2 separate regions of the Homo sapiens genome follow, and region 2 is linked to region 1. The links come from fine-mapping of genetic effects on gene expression. Tissue or cell type: regulatory T cells. Region 1 holds a variant in brackets; the other region holds the start of a gene. All regions are shown on one strand. Distances are from middle to middle.

What was found. PIP is the estimated chance that this variant, and not a neighbour inherited with it, causes the effect.
Region 2: FRAT1 starts here. The variant in region 1 is fine-mapped to the expression of FRAT1 in regulatory T cells (Schmiedel 2018, PIP 0.95).

Annotation. Positions count from the first base shown.
Region 1 is chr10:97,230,028-97,238,130 of GRCh38, forward strand. ARHGAP19 (Rho GTPase activating protein 19) reads right to left here. Exons shown (of 12, transcript NM_032900.6): 9 at 5,190-5,288. It overlaps ARHGAP19-SLIT1 (ARHGAP19-SLIT1 readthrough (NMD candidate)), which reads right to left. Exons shown (of 15, transcript NR_037909.1): 9 at 5,190-5,288. LOC105378447 (a long non-coding RNA gene) reads left to right here. Exons shown (of 3, transcript XR_946226.3): 3 at 1,129-1,211. Among named protein-coding and RNA genes, the nearest start is that of SLIT1, 48 kb to the left of the region's middle. The variant TAA/T (reference allele first, on the strand shown) is at 4,388.
Region 2 is chr10:97,314,342-97,322,444 of GRCh38, forward strand. It overlaps FRAT1 (FRAT regulator of Wnt signaling pathway 1), which reads left to right and starts at 4,930. Exons shown (of 1, transcript NM_005479.4): 1 at 4,930-7,574. The coding sequence starts at 5,113. The coding sequence ends at 5,952. RefSeq lists enhancers at 4,244-5,033, 4,771-5,065, 6,155-6,314 and silencers at 4,905-5,214, 5,715-5,814.

The DNA.
Region 1 (8,103 bases):
GAGGCCAAAGCATGTTACCAAAAAAACCCAAAATCATTACTTTTGTTTAAGTGATCACTTTTCCTCCACATTTAAAAGGGCTGAAAGGTTAGAAGCAACTTTATAGTTGATTTAAACAAGCTAATATAGGTCAATTACAGTGTGCCTCTGAGACCAGTTACTCACAATATAGAAACACCAGTTACTCATCATATAATTTTTTTCCCCAAAGATGTGCTGTCTCTGGCAACTATTTAAAAAGTCCCTCCCCCCTACTTACCACTGAGGGATACTTAGGCTGGCTCTTCTCTAAGGCACTTCTTCCTCCCTGTCATTTACTCACACAGGACTGGAACATTTGGAGACATTCTATAAGAGTTCCTAATATAGCCACAAGAAGGTAGAGGCCTTCTTAAGGGGGTCACATGACTGTACTGACATTCAGAGCAAGACTAAAAGCCCTTTCATCTCTGAACAGCTTAGAAGATGATGTAGTTTAGGTAACCGCCAACAGTGACAATTCTACCATCTTTGGAGAAATTTTTTTTTCCCTTAGAGAATAAATTTGAATTCTAAAAAAAGAACATATCAAAACTAGAACATTAAACCCTGCATTATAAATATGAGCAGCAATATTCAGAACATTCTGATTTAATAAATAATTTACATGAGAGGAGTTCTGGAGGAAAAAACTCTAGCCAAAAAAGGGATCCAGACAGGCTAGATGGTCAATTATACCTTGATAAGGCTGAGGGAAAACACAAAAATAATATTTTAGGCCGGGAGCGGTGGCTCACGCCTGTAATCTCAGCACTTTGGGACGCTGAGGCGGGTGAATCGCTGGAGGCCAGGAGTTTGAGACCAGCCTGGCCAACATGGTGAAATACTGTCTCTACTAAAATTAACTGGGCGTGGTGGTGCATGCCTGTAATCCCAGCTACTCGGGAGGCCGAGGCATGAGAATCACTTGAACCCAGGAAGTGGAAGTTGCAGTGAGCTGAGATCATGCCACTGCACTCCAGCCTGCACACCTAGTGAGACTCTTGTCTCACCAAAAAAAAAAAAAAAAAAAAAAAAAAAAAAGACTAACACATAGAGGAACATTTATCTGACTATAACTTTTCTGATTCTCAATCATCTCTATGACAGGGAAGTCAGAGGGAATGACAGATTCTTCCAAATGAGAAGAAAAAAACAAGAGTAAACTAACGATGTTCGTTTTACTAGCCCTGTCTAAGCAGGTAAATGCACTTTTAGGATTCTAGCTAAGGGATTTTTTTTAAACAATGATAAAATGAACATAACATAAAATTTACTATTTTAACCATTTTTAAGTATACAGTTCAATGGTATTAAGTATATTAATAGTGTTGTGCAACCATCACCATCATCTATCTTCAGAACTTTCTCATCCTCCCAAACAGAAATACTGTACCCATTAAATAATATCTCCCCATTCTCCTCATACTCTTAGCTCCCCTGACAACCAACCACCTTCTCTACTTTCTGTCTCTGAACTTGACTCACAGGTACCTCAGTGGAATCATACAGTATTTTTCCTTTTATGACTGGATTATTTCTCTTAGCATAATATCTTCAAGATTCACGCATGTTGTAGGATATGTCAGAATTTCTTTCCTTTTTAAGGACAAATAATGTTCCATTATCTGTATATCCAAGGTTTGTCATCCATTCATCAGTCAATAGACAGTTGGGTTGCTTCTGCCTTTTGGCTTTTGTGAATAATGCTGCTATGAATACGGGTGTACAAATATTGCCTCAAGACCCTGCTTTCAATTCTTTTGGTTATATACCGGGAGTAGCATTGCTGGATCACAAGGTCATTCTATTTAAATTTTTTAGGAACTGCCATACTGTTTTCCACAGTGGCTCCTCCATTTTACATCCCTATCAATAATGCATAGGGGTTCCAAATTCTCCACATCCTCATCAACATTTGTTATTTTCCGTTGTTTTTTTTTTTTTTTTTTTAATAATAGTCATCCTAGTGGGTGTGAAGTGGTATCTAATTGTGGTTTTGATTTACATTTCCCTAATGATTAGTGATGTTGAACATCTTTTCATGTGTTTCTTGGCCATCTGTACATCTTCTCTGGAGAAATTTCTATTTAAGTCCTTTGCTCACTATTTTTTTTTTTTTTTTTTTTTTTTTTTGAGACAGAGTCTCGCTCTGTCACCCAGGCTGGAGTACAGTGGCTCAATCTCGGCTCACTGCAACCTCTGCCTCCTGGGTTCAAACGATTCTCCTGCCTCAGCCTCCTGAGTAGCTGGGACTACAGGCACATGCCAACATGCCCGGCTAATTTTTTGTATTTTTAATAGAGATGGAGTTTCACCGTGTTAGCCAGAATGGTCTTAATCTCCTGACCTCGTGATCCGCCCACCTCAGCCTCCCAAAGTACTGGGATTACAGGCGTGAGCCACTGTGCGCGGCCTCTGCCCACTCTTTAATGAGGTTGTTTTTGCTGTGTTGAGTTATAGGAGTTCTTTAGATTATTATGGATATTAATCCCTAATCATAAATATGATTTGCAAATATTTTCTCCCAATCCAGGGTTGCCTTTTCACTCTGTAGATGGCAAAGGAAATTTTGATGTCAAGTAAGCCTAATGTCCTAGAAGCTACTGGCCCCAGGAGGTCAGGATTGAGAGTGAATTCTAGATATCTATAAATTATAACTAGGACCAAAATTACAGTAAGATGAATTTGTAAATGCTAACAGCTGTACCTCAAAAAAAAAAAATTACAGACACAGTGGCTCACATCTGTAATCCCAGCACTTCAGGGGGCCAAAGCAGGAGGATCACTTGAGCCCAGAAATTCAAGACCAGCAACACAGGCTGGGCATGGTGGCTCACGCCTATAATCTCAGCACTTTGGGAGGCCGAAGCGGGCAGATTACTTGAGGCCAGGAGTTCAAGACCAGGCTGGCCAACATGGTGAAACCCCATCTCTACTAAAAATACAAAAAATTAGCCGGGCATGGTGGTGGGCGCCTGTAATCCCAGCTACTAGGGAGGCTGAGGTGGAAGAATCACTTGAACCCTGGAGATGGAGGTTGCAGTGAGCTGAGATCACGCCACTGCACTCCAGCCTGAGGCATAGAGCGAGACTGTCTCAAAAAAAAAAGACCAGCAACACAGCAAGACCCCATCTCTACAAACATTTAAAAATCAGCCAGGTATGATGGCATGCACTTGTGGTCCCAGCTACTTGGGAGGCTGAAGTAGGAGGATCGCTGAGCGCCCAGGAGATCAAGGCTGCAATAAGCCATGATGGTGCCACTTGTACTTCAGCCTGAGCAGCAGAGCAAGACCCTGTCTCAAAAATAAATAAATAAATAAATATTACAAGTTATTTATTTTTAGGGCAAAAATTTTAAATTTTAAGCAAAGAGCTCCCTGTGTTGCTGGAATTATATATCTTAATAACAAAGTAATTTTTAAAAGAAAAGCAGGGCAAAACACCAAAAATAAAAACAAAAGGAAGCCATCCTCAGCAAACTAACACAAGAACAGAAAACCAAACACCACATGTTCTCACTTGTGAGTAGGAGCTGGCCGGGTGCAGTGGCTCATGCCTATAATCCCAGTACTTTGGAAGGCCAAGGCGGGTGGATCACTTGAGGTCACGAGTTCGAGACCAGCCTGGCCAACATGGTGAAACCTCGTCTCTACTAAAACTACAAAAATGAGCCAGGCATGGTGGCGCACGCCTGTAGTCCCAGCTACTTGGGAGGCTGAGGCAGGAAAATGGCTTGAAACCAGGAGGCGGAGGCTGCAGTGAGCTGAGATCAAGCCACTGCACTCCAGCCTGGGTGACAGAGAGAGACTCCATCTAAAAAAAAAAAGTGGGAGCTAAACAATGAGAACACATGGACACAGGGAGGGGAACAACACACACTGGGGCCTGTTGGGGGGTGGAGTGGGGGGAAGGAGAGTATTAAGAAAAGTAGCTGGCCAGACGCAATGGCTTATGCCTGTAATCCCAGCAATTTGGGAGGCTGAGGCGGGTGAATCACCTGAGGTCAGGAGTTCCAGACCAGCCTGGCCGACATGGTGAAACCCCCTCTCTACTAAAAAGGCAAAAATTAGCTGGGCATGGTGGCAGGCACTTGTAATCCTACCTACTTGGGAAGCTGAGGCAGGAGAATCGCTTGAACCCAAGAGGGGGAGGTTGCAGTGAGCCGAGACCATGTTATTGCACTCCAGCCTGGGCGACAACAGCGAGACTCTGTCTCAAAAAAAAATTAAAAAAATAAAAATAGCTAACGCATGCTGGGCTTCATACCTAGGTGATGGGTTTACAGGTGCAGCAAACCACCATGGCACACATTTACCTATATAACAAACCTGCACATCCTGCACATGTACCCAGAAATAAAAAT[TAA/T]AAAAAAAAAAAAAAAAAAAAGATACTCAGTGCTTTTGGGGCAGCAATCTCTTCCAAAAAAGAAAAATAGAAAAGAAAAGCAGTGTATATAGCACTCATCTCTCTCCAAGTTAACCAAAACCTTGCCTTAGTTCATGCATGGAAATTTGAACCCCATGATCAAGTTATCTACTGCCACCTGATGGCAATATTCCTTCACTACATGTTCCGATAGTTTGAAGACTTATAAATTTAATCTGCAAACATGGTGATAGCAGCAATAACATAGAAGCATATTTTGTATTTGTTTTAAAAACAAGATTTTTACTGAATTTGATACATGGAAGAAAGTACAACAACTGTTAAAAATATTAAGCTCACAAAAATTTGGGGTATCAAAACTCACTAGCCTATTGGAAAATCCAGTTTTCTAACAGTTTCCCTAGTCTGTCTCAACTTCCTCACTTCTCCACAGGTTTACCAAATTGCATAAAGAAGTGTGTAACTCGAAGCTGATCAGAAAACAAAAGGGCCTCTTACACTGCTCAGGAATGCAGACTCTGTCCTTAGCCCCTTAGCCCCAGAAGAAAAGGAAGGACCCTTACTTCTACTCCTCACGTCACAGAGCCCCTTCTCTGATGTGCAACACAGCAAAGCACTTTGCAATATAAAAGCTTTTCAACATTTTGTCTTTACCCCCTTATAAACTAGCCCTTTATAGGGTCCCCAAAAAACAGAAGAAAACTTTTTATGCATAAGAAAAATCACATTGTTACATTTCCTAAAAATCAATGCTGAAAACGACAGCCCAGCATACCTACCTTAATAAGCCCACTGAAGGAGCGCGAACGAGCCCTCTTTTGTACCTGGGAAGTAGAAGGTTCTCGCCCTGGTGTCTGGGTCAATGATTGCTTATTAAACTAAAAGAAAACATGGAGAACATTTTATAAATACTTTCCCATCAAGACACGGCATTCTGTGACAACTAATAGCTAAGTGTAAATAAAAGTCCAGGAAAAACTGAGTCTGCGCATAGATGGATTAGGAGGTCAAAAAGCCAATCACAAAGTCAGAAATGATGATGCCAAAAGAAGTGGATTCAAGTGCTCTGAGGGGCTCTGCACGCCACATTCCTTGAATGTGGAATTACTGTCCCCATTCTACAGACAAAAAAACTGAGACTTGGAGAGCTTATGAAATTTATCCACGATCCCCAGCTGCTAACCAAGACTTTTTTGCAACAAAGCATCTTGGAACCACACAGTTACTGGCACAATCTAAAACAGTCCCTAATTTAACATAAATTGCATACAGAATTTTTTTAAGTTACTAAAACTCTTTAAATGGACATCTATCATGACTGCCTGACAACAATACCATCAGAGGAAATACATCAGAATGCAGACTTGTCAATGCTATCAACATCAGCTCTCTGGAGGTATCTAAAGTGGAAAACGAGAAGACCCAATGCATTGAATAATCTTATTCAATGCTTTGATTAGCCATTCATTTCCCACTTAAAAAGTAATAATAATATAGCATTTAACTCTTCTACTCTTCTGCCTTTTCAGATTGTTGATGATGTTGCTGTTGTTGCTGGAGACAGAGTCTCACTCTGTTGCCAGGCTGGAGCGCAGTGGCACAATCTCGGCTCACTGCAACCTCCGCCTCCCAGGTTCAAGCAATTCTCATGCCTCAGCCTGGCGAGTAGCTGGGATTACAGGCGTGCGCCACCACACCCAGCTAATTTTTTCTATTTTTAGTAGAGATGGGGCTTCACTGTGTTGGCCAGGCTGATCTCGAACTCCTGACCTCAAGTGATCCGCCCACCTCGGCCTACCAAAGTGCTAGGATTACAGGCGTGAGACACCACACCCAGCCTCTTCTGCCTTTTCTAACTATACTTTTAAAATTTCGGAACTGTAAAAATTTGGGAATTTTACCAGTTCAAGTTCTGGAGGTTAAAAAATTACTTTTACATAAAAGTACCAAGAGGTTCTCAAAGTTAATTGTCTCGGCAGGCAGAAAAATTAGCCACGTCTGAAGAGCTTAGCTAGTTAAGTATCCCTCCTGAATAAACTGGGACAAGTAAAAAATGCATCTTTCCTGATGGTGGCAAGGGTACAATAAGGTAAATTCTCTCATATCCAACTCAAGGGAGTGTTAACTGGCAAAATGTTCTGGGAAGGTATTTAGCAAGGTGTATCCAGAGCCTTTTTAAAATGCATATTAAAAAGTACATGCCACTAAAAATACAAAAAATTAGCCGGGCATGGTGGTGTACATCTGTAGTCTCAGCTACTCGGGAGGCTGTGGTGGGAGGATCATGATCACCTGAGCCCAGGGAGGTCGAGGCTGCAGTGAGCCATGATTGTGCCACTGCACTCCAGCCTGGGCAACAGACTCAGAAAAAAAAAAAAAAAAAAAAAATACACCACATATAAAGTGTTCTTAGCCTGAAAAACTGAATTAGAATCAGATCAAGCCTCTAGAAATAGATCTAACTACCAGTTTATAGCATGAACACAGGACTGTGAAACATGTTGAATAACATTACAGGAATGCAATCATTAAAATCCAGAATATAGGCCAAGCATGGTGGCTCATGCCTGTAATCTCAGCACTTTGGGAGGCCAAAGCCAGCAGATCACTTGAGCTCAAGAGTTCATGACCAGCCTGGGCAACATGGCGAAACCCTGTCTCTACAAAAAATACAAAAATTAGCCAGGCATGGTGGCACATGCCTGTAGTCCCGGCTACTCAGGAGGCTGAAGTGGGAGGATGGCTTGAACCCAGGAGGCAGAGGTTGCAGTGAGCTGAGATCAATCACGTCATTCCAGTCTAGGCAACAGAGCTAGACCTTGTCTCAAAAAAAAAAAAAAAAAAACTCAGTCTACGGAAAACAATATAGTTTCTTCCACAAATAAGGTTCAGATAAAATCATGCACCACATAATGACATTTTGGTCAATGACAGACCACGTATATGACAGTAGGTCCCATCAGATTATAATGGAGGTGAAAAATTCCTATCACCTCATGATATCACTGCTGTCCTAACATCACAGCGCAATGTGTTACTCAAGTGACTGCAGTGATGCTGGAATAAACAAACCTACTGTGCTGGAAGCTGTATAAAAGTCTAGTACATACCATTATATACAGTACATAATTCTTGATAATGATAATAAATGGGCTAGATGTGGCAGCTCACACCTATAATCCCAACACTTTAGGAGGCCAAGACAGGTGGGTCACTTGAGACCAGGAGTTCAAGACCAGCCTGGCCAACAGGGTGAAACCTCATCTGTACTAAAAATACAAAAATTAGCTGGGCGTGGTGGTGGGCGCCTGTAATCCCAGCTACTCGGGAGGCTGAGGCAGGAGAATCGCTTGAACCTGGGAGGCAGAGGTTGCAGTGAGCCAAGTCTGCGTCATTGCACTCCAGCCTGGGCGAAAGAGCGAGACTCTATCTCCAAAAAAAAACAAAAAACAAAAAAACAAAACAACAATAATGTTACTGGTTTATGTATTTACCATACTATACTTTTATCATCATTTATACCTTTTACCATTATTTTAGAGTGCACTCCTACTTATTTTTTTTTAAAGTTAACTATAAAACAGCCTCAGGCAAGTCTTTCAGGAGGTATTCTAGAAAAAGGCATTGTTATCATAGGAGATGACAGCTCCATGAGTGATATTGCCTCTGAAGACCTTCTAGTGGAATAAGATG
Region 2 (8,103 bases), 84 kb after region 1:
TCGATCTCTTGACCTCATGATCCACCCACCTCGGCCTACCAAAGTGCTGGGATTACAGGCCTGAGCCACTGCACCCAGCCAATTTCCCCTTTTCTATGGCTTATTGTTTCTAACACTTTATTGTAAAATTTTTCAAACAGCCAACAAAATTGAAAGAATACCCTGTTACCCAACACCTAGATCCTAGTATTTTAAAAATTGAGATATATTTCACATAACATAAAATTCAACATTTTAAAGTGTACACTTCAATAGTTTTTAGTACTGTATATTCATTATGTTGTACAAACATCACCACTAATTTCAAAACATTTTTATAACCCCAAAAAGAAAACTCTTACCCATTAGCTGTTAGTCCTAATTCCCCCCTTCTCCCATCCCCTGGCAACCACTAATCTACCTTCTGTTTCTATGGATTTGTCTATTCTGGACGTTTCATATAAATAGAATTACACAATATGTTGCCTTTCCTGTCTGATTTGTTCACTCAGCATAATGTTTTCAACATTCATTCCTTTTGTAGCATGTATCAGTACTTCATTCCTTTTTATGGTGAATAATACTCCATCGTATGAGTATACGACATTTGATTCATCCATTTATCAGCTGATGAACATCTGAGTTGTTTGCACTTTTTGACTATCATGAATAATGCTGCTATCAACATTTGTGTACACGTTTTTATGTGAACATATGTTTTCAATTTTCTCTGGTATATAGCTAAAAGTAGAATGGATGGGTCATATGGTAACATTAACATATTACTATACATGTTTTATCACATATCTACCTGTCTAACTATCCTTCTAATCCATCTATATTAATCCTTCTCACATTTTACTGTACTTTGGAATAAATTGCAAACATCAGTACACCTCACTCCAAACTCATCAGCATGTCTATTACTATAATTCAAGCTTTCTTTACAATTTATTCTCTTCATGTAAAATCTACAATTTTTTTCTCTTTGTTTTTTTGTTTTGTTTTGTTTTGTTTTTGTTTTTTGTTTTTTTGAGACAGGGTCTCACTCTACTGCCCAGGCTGGAGTGCAGTGGCACAATCTTGGCTTACTGCAACCTCTGCCTCTCGGGCTCAAGCAATTCTCCTGCCTCAATCTCCTGAGTAGCTGGGACTACAGGCATGAGCCACCATGCCCTGCTACTTGTTGTATTTTTAGTAGAGACGGGGTTTCACCATGTTGACCAGACTGGTCTCAAACTCCTGACCTCAGCTGATCTGCCCACCTCAGCCTCTCAAAGCGTTGGGATTACAGGCGTGAGCCACCGCGCCCAGCCCACTCAATGAGTTTTAACACATGCCTAAACCTATGAAACCCAAATCAAGATATCAAGATTTAGAACATGTCCACCCTCCTGCAAGTTCCCTCTGTCTGTTCAGTGTCACAGTGTCAGTCCTGCCCCTGCTCTACCTTTTCCAAAGGCAACCAGTCTTCTGATGTTTTCCCCACCGTAAGTTACTTTCCCTGTTCTAGAACTTCATATAAACAGAAACATATGACATATATCCGTTTTTATCTGGCTTCTTTCACTTAGCATACTGTTTTTAAGCTTCATTCATGTTACTGCATGCAGCAATATTCAGTCCTTTCTGTTGCTGAACTGTTTTCTGTCATCATCCTGTGTGAATGTACAATAGGTTGTTTGTCCATTCACCTGTTGATGAACACTTGGGCCATTTCACTTTTGGCTTTTATGAATAAAACTCCTTTGATGTGAGCCAACATCGTGCCACTGCACTCCAGCCTGGGCAAAAGAGGGAGACCCTGTCTCAATTAAAAAGAAAAAAAAATATGCTATGATCACCTCCCTGTAGGCCTTGATGTGGGCCCATGTGTTTATTTCTCTTAGCTAAGTATCCAGGATTGAAACTGTGTTCCAGGACAGGTGTATGTTTCATTTTATAAGAAACTGTCAGGCCTTTTTCCAAGGTGGTTGTACCATTTTTCATGCCCACAACAATATATGAGGCTTATAAGTTGTGAGCCAAAGATAAAAATGCACAAATTGTAAACTGCTACTAATTATTTTCATTTGAAAATTTTAAGTAGGCCGGGTCTGGTGGCTCATGCCTGTAAATCCCAGCACTTTGGGAGGTCGAGGCAGGCGGATCACCTGAAGTCAGGAGTTCAAGACCAGCCTGGCCAACATGGTGAAACCCCATCTCTACTAAAAATACAAAAATTAGCCAGGCATGGTGGTGCACGCCTGCAGTGTCAGCTACTTAGCAGGCTGAGGCAGGAGAACTGCTTGAACCCGGGAGGCAGAGGTTGCAGTGAGCGAAGATTGTGCCACTGCACTCCAGCCTGGACAACAGAGCAAGACTCCATCACAACAACAATAACAACAACAACAACAACAACAACAAATGCCCAACAAACCAGGAATAGAAGGGAACATTCTTAACCTGATAAATACTATCTATGAAAAATCCACAGCTAACATCCTACCTAATGTTGTGAAAGACTGAATGTTTTCATCTAAGATCAGGAATAAGACAGGGCCAGGTGCTGTGGCTCATGCCTGTAATCTTAGCACTTTAGGAAGCTGGGGTGGGCGGATCGTTTGAGCTCAGGAGTTCAAGACCTGCCCGAGCAACATGGTGAGACCCCCTGGGTCTACAAAAAATACAAAAATTAGCCAGGCATGGTGGCTTGCACCTGTAGTCCCAGCTACTCAGGAGGCTGAGATAGGAGGATCAACTGAGCCTGGGGAAGTCAAGGCTGCAGTGAGCAGAGATCATGCCACTGCACTCCAGCCTGGGCCACAGAATGAGACCCTGTCTCAAAAAAAAAAAAAAAGAAAAAAAGAAAAGAAAAAAGAAAAAGAAGAGAAGCAAAACTATCTCTATTTGTAGATGACACGATCTTCTATATAGAAAATCCTAAGGAATCCACAAAAACAAGGTGATGAACCTTATGACACCCTGTAGAAATCCAGATTTCGTAGATTAGAAATCCAATGGCTTTGTTTAAACTGTCTCTTCCTCTGTTTTTACATTTTTTCCTCCACACTTGACAAAAACAAACCCAACTCTTTTTAAACCAACTTCCCTACCTCTTTCCTGCACTCATCCCTTCCTAAAGGTTTGCTCCTATAATTATTATCGTTGGAACTGCCCAACAAGACCCTCGTTTTCTATTTATCTGGATCTCCAGGCTCATTTCTTTCTTTGTATCCTATTTTCTATATCATGCTCAGAATTTTAAAGTTGCTTCCAGGCTGGGCGCGGTGGCTCATGTCTGTAACGCCAGCATTTCGGGAGGAGGGATTGCTTGAGTCCAGGAGTTTGAGACCGGACGGGCCAACATGGCGAAACCCTGTATCCACTAAAAATACAAAAATTAGCCAGGTGTAGTGGCGCGTGCCTATTGTCCCAGCTACTCGGGAGGCTGAGGTGGGAGGATCACCTGATCCTGGGAAGTCAAGGCTGCAATCAGCCAGATCACACCACTGCACTCCAGCCTGGGTGACAGAGTGAAATTCTGTCAAAGAAAGAAAAGAAAGAGAAAGAAAAGGAAGAAAGGAAGGAAGGAAGCGTATCTCCATTTTCATCCAAACAGGTATTTTTCTCTGCTACTACGTACCTCCTCAGAGCCCATCCCCCCTACTGGTCTGAGGCTTTTTTTTAAACAACTTTCTGGACATAGCCCCTCTTAAGACTAACAACCTATAGCCAGGCGTGGTGGCTCACGCTTGTAATCCCAGGATTTTGGGAGGCCGAGGCAGGTGGATCACCTGAGGTCGGGAGTACCAGACCAGCCTGACCAATATGGAGAAACCCCATCTCTGCTAAAAACACAAAATTAGGCTGGGCATGGCGGCGCATGCCTGTAATCCCAGCAACTCGGGAGGCTGAGGCAGGAGAACTGCTTGAACCCAGGAGGCGGAAGTTGTGGTGAGCGGAGATTGCGCCATTGTACTCCAGCCTGGGCAACAAGAGCGAAACTCTGTCTCAAAAAAACAAAACAAAACAAAAAGAGTAGCAACCTAGGCCGGGCGCAGTGGCTCACGCCTGTAATCCCAGCACTTTGGGAGGCTGAGGCGGGTGGATCACCTGAGGTCAGGAGTTCGAGACCAGCCTGGCCAACATGGTGAAACCCCGTCTCTACTAAAAATACAAAAATTAGCCGGGCGTGGTGGTGGGCGCCTGTAATCCCAGCTACTCGGAAGGCTGAGGCAGGAGAATTGCTTAAACGCAGGAGGCGGAGGTTGTAGTGAGTGGAGATCGAGCCACTGCACTCCAGCCTGGGCGATAGAGCGAGACTCCGTCTCAAAAAAACAAACAAACAAATAAACAAAAAGACTAGCAACCTCCTCTCCAGCAATGCCAACCCCAGTCCAGGCCCCCATCCGCCCAGGATCTCGATCAAAAAACATTAATCTGTGGCCTTTCTTTGCCATTTCCAACTCTGCCACCTCCATCGAACGACAAGGTCCCCTTCTTCCTTTCCATTCCCGTCAGCTTCATTTCCCTAATCTCCGTACAAATCCCTAGCCTGACTCCCTTTCCTTTCCATCCTCACCAGACGCCCGCATGCCGGACCTCAAAAGCGCAAACGCTAAAAACCGGTTGAGTTGACGCACGGAGAGAAGGGGTGTGTGGGTGGGTGGGTGTGTGTTAGTGTGCGTGCTTGCTTGTGTGTGGAAGAAACCAACAGGGTTCACGCTGGTGCCCATTTCTGGAAATGCCAATCGCGCCCGACTGCGGGAGCCAGGATCAGGTCCCCAGGGCGCCCTTGCAGACAGCACCCTGAGCGAAGGAGCTCAGAAGGCAGTCCGGCTTCACCCAGACCCCCAATCCCACAGAAGCGCCGTCCCCCAGCGGCACAGCACCCCCTCCCCGGCGCGGTGGTAGGGCCCGACGTGACGTCACCCATTGTTTACAAATCAACCCGAGCCGGCAGGATTCCGGCTCCCGCGGCTGCAGGCGCGCGGCTAGAGTGCCTGGCGGGCTCCGGCTTCCGCGTCCGCCCCGGCCCCGGTCCAGACTTAGTCTTCAGCTCCGCGCCCGCTCCGCCGCGGCCCACCGCGCCCGCCGGCAGCCGAGCCCCCAGCGACGCCCGCACAGCTCCGGGTGCCCAGACAGGGGGCCATGCCGTGCCGGAGGGAGGAGGAAGAGGAAGCCGGCGAGGAGGCGGAGGGGGAGGAAGAGGAGGAGGACAGCTTCCTCCTACTGCAGCAGTCAGTGGCGCTGGGCAGCTCGGGCGAGGTGGACCGGCTGGTGGCCCAGATCGGCGAGACGCTGCAGCTGGACGCGGCGCAGCACAGCCCGGCCTCGCCGTGCGGGCCCCCGGGGGCGCCGCTGCGGGCCCCGGGGCCCCTGGCTGCGGCGGTGCCGGCGGACAAGGCCAGGTCCCCGGCGGTGCCGCTGCTGCTGCCGCCCGCGTTGGCGGAGACTGTGGGCCCGGCGCCCCCTGGGGTCCTGCGCTGCGCCCTGGGGGACCGCGGCCGCGTGCGGGGCCGCGCTGCGCCCTACTGCGTGGCCGAGCTCGCCACAGGCCCCAGCGCGCTGTCCCCACTGCCCCCTCAGGCCGACCTTGATGGGCCTCCGGGAGCTGGCAAGCAGGGCATCCCGCAGCCGCTGTCGGGTCCGTGCCGGCGAGGATGGCTCCGGGGCGCCGCCGCCTCCCGCCGCCTGCAGCAGCGACGCGGGTCCCAACCAGAAACCCGCACAGGCGACGACGACCCGCACCGGCTTCTGCAGCAGCTAGTGCTCTCTGGAAACCTCATCAAGGAGGCCGTGCGAAGGCTTCATTCGCGACGGCTGCAGTTACGTGCAAAGCTTCCCCAACGCCCGCTCCTGGGACCTCTGTCGGCCCCGGTGCATGAACCCCCTTCGCCTCGCAGCCCTCGCGCGGCCTGCAGTGACCCTGGCGCCTCCGGGAGGGCGCAGCTCAGAACTGGCGACGGCGTTCTTGTGCCTGGCAGCTAACACGCCCGGGGTGGCCACAGCGCCAGCCTCAGACTGGAGGGCAAGGGGTTCCCTTGAGGGCTGCAGTTCTACTCAGGCTGGTGGAGAACTCTGGCTTTTGGAAGCGAGAGTAAAAAGCTAATGACGAGGAACCGAAAAATCGCGAGTGTTTCGCGGGTAACTGGGGTTGAGGGCCAAAATATTTGGAATGAAGGACTTTGGCCCTATTTAAGGCAGATTTTACAGAGCGCACCTCAAACGTACAAGTCAGTAGGACTCCTTATTTGGCGTGACCCGACCTGGCCGCGGAGCCTGCATTTCCTCGCAGCCTCTCAGTGCCCTCCAGCCCCGCGACCATGTGGCCACAATCCACGCTTCTCCGGATCGCGGTGCGCCGGAACCACGGAGGATGATGCCAGTTACTTGCTTTACCTTTTCAGGGCTGGCTCCTGATCCACTTTGGGGGAGGAGAACATGAGTAGATAATTTCAGGGTGCAGCCCAATCTGCCAGACTTAAAAAAACCATCTTGTGTCTTTGGAGGTGCTGCTTAATACCAAACATGCGGTGCCATGAAGGGACCCTTTGGGGGTTGAATAGGAGTTAACCCCTGCGCTCTCTTTGCAACTGTCTCTCTTCTCAGAGTGGTGGGGGAAGGCTGTACGACACGGGTGGGGAAAGGAGGTGGGGGCGGGGAGTATTGAATGGTGGTGGAAGGGTAGAGAGGCGCGGAGTGAACCCCACGCCCTGTCTAAAGTGTATTTTCAGAGCCGGCCCGCCTCTCCTCGGTTCAAGGTCACTGTTTCCTGGGCACGCACTGGGTTGCGGGACAGAGTAGCCAGGTTCTGCCGGTGCTCGGAGAAGAGCGCAGTGTTTTGCAAGTGCTGGAGTCTCCTGAGGACACGCGCGTCGCCGCCACCGCGGGTGTGGGAAAGCGCGGACGTGCTGGGCGGCTGTGCTTCGGTAGGCGACCACCGCCCCTGGCCGCGCTCCGGGCTTTCACGGAAACTCCCGAGACCGGGCCCTGGGTTCCTCCTCTCCTACTCGGCTCTGCAGTCCTACTCAAGCGGGTGGCTCTGGGATCCTGGGGGCCTGGGTTGGGGGCTAGGGAGACGCCATGTGATGGACACTCCAGGGACACACAGCCTAGCACAGCAGCTTATAATGGGCTCTCCGGGGCCATTTGCAATAACAGCTGCAATTCCCTGGATAGACGAGTTGATTTCCTCCCTCTGCCCCTCCCCCAGCCATGCCAGCTGGCCTTTGTAAGTGCAGGAAACCGAGTAGAAAATGTGACCCTCCAAATGGAGAAGCTGCAGGCTTTGCCATTGTGAACCATGGTGAAGTGCTTGGAACATACTGTTCACTCACTCTAAAGGCGCTGAGACTGTGCTGTTGTTCTCGTTTTTATAGTCAATGGCTTGTTCATCATCCAGATGTGGCTACTGACATATCTACACTTCGCACCGGAGTGTCTGGAATTGTGGCTATCCTGATTATAGGATTTTAACTTAACTGAAATGCCTGCTTTGAATAAATGTGTTGGGTTTTTTGTTTGGTTTTATTTTATACTTGCCATCAGTGAAAAAGATGTACAGAACACATTTCTCTGATCTCCATAAACATGAAAACACTTGAAATCTCTGTCAGCCTGGCTTGTGGATGGTAATTAGAGCGCCTTTGTGTCTGAGCAGCTCACTAGCTAGACAAGGTCTCCGCAGCTGGGTGTGTATTGGAGCTGGCATGAAATTAAATGAAAGTGAGGTCAGGTTTTGGACCAATCCCATTCGTTAAAACCTCAGAGCCTTTTGGATTACTAGTCAGTGATGGAGATGTGTTATAAAGCTGCCTCTATTAGCAAAGGACATCAGATCAGCCAGTCACTGCAAACTGGGAGGCTTATCTTTTTTTTTTTCTTTTTCTTTTTTTCTTCTTTCTCACCGTGGCCATTAAGTGCACTTGTTCCACAAGGTGGGCCTTAAGGCTGGGGCAGCTCTTGATTAGGAGACTGCTCACAATGTGAGCCTGGTGGTAGGAAAGCTGGGTGGAAACTTACAAAAGACTCCTGTCTTTGCCCCTGGCACATTTATACCATTCTGTCCCTAAGCAGTGACATAACAGGCCATGTCTATCCTTATGGTTCTGACTTACTTCAGTCTGTTCCCTCATGGAA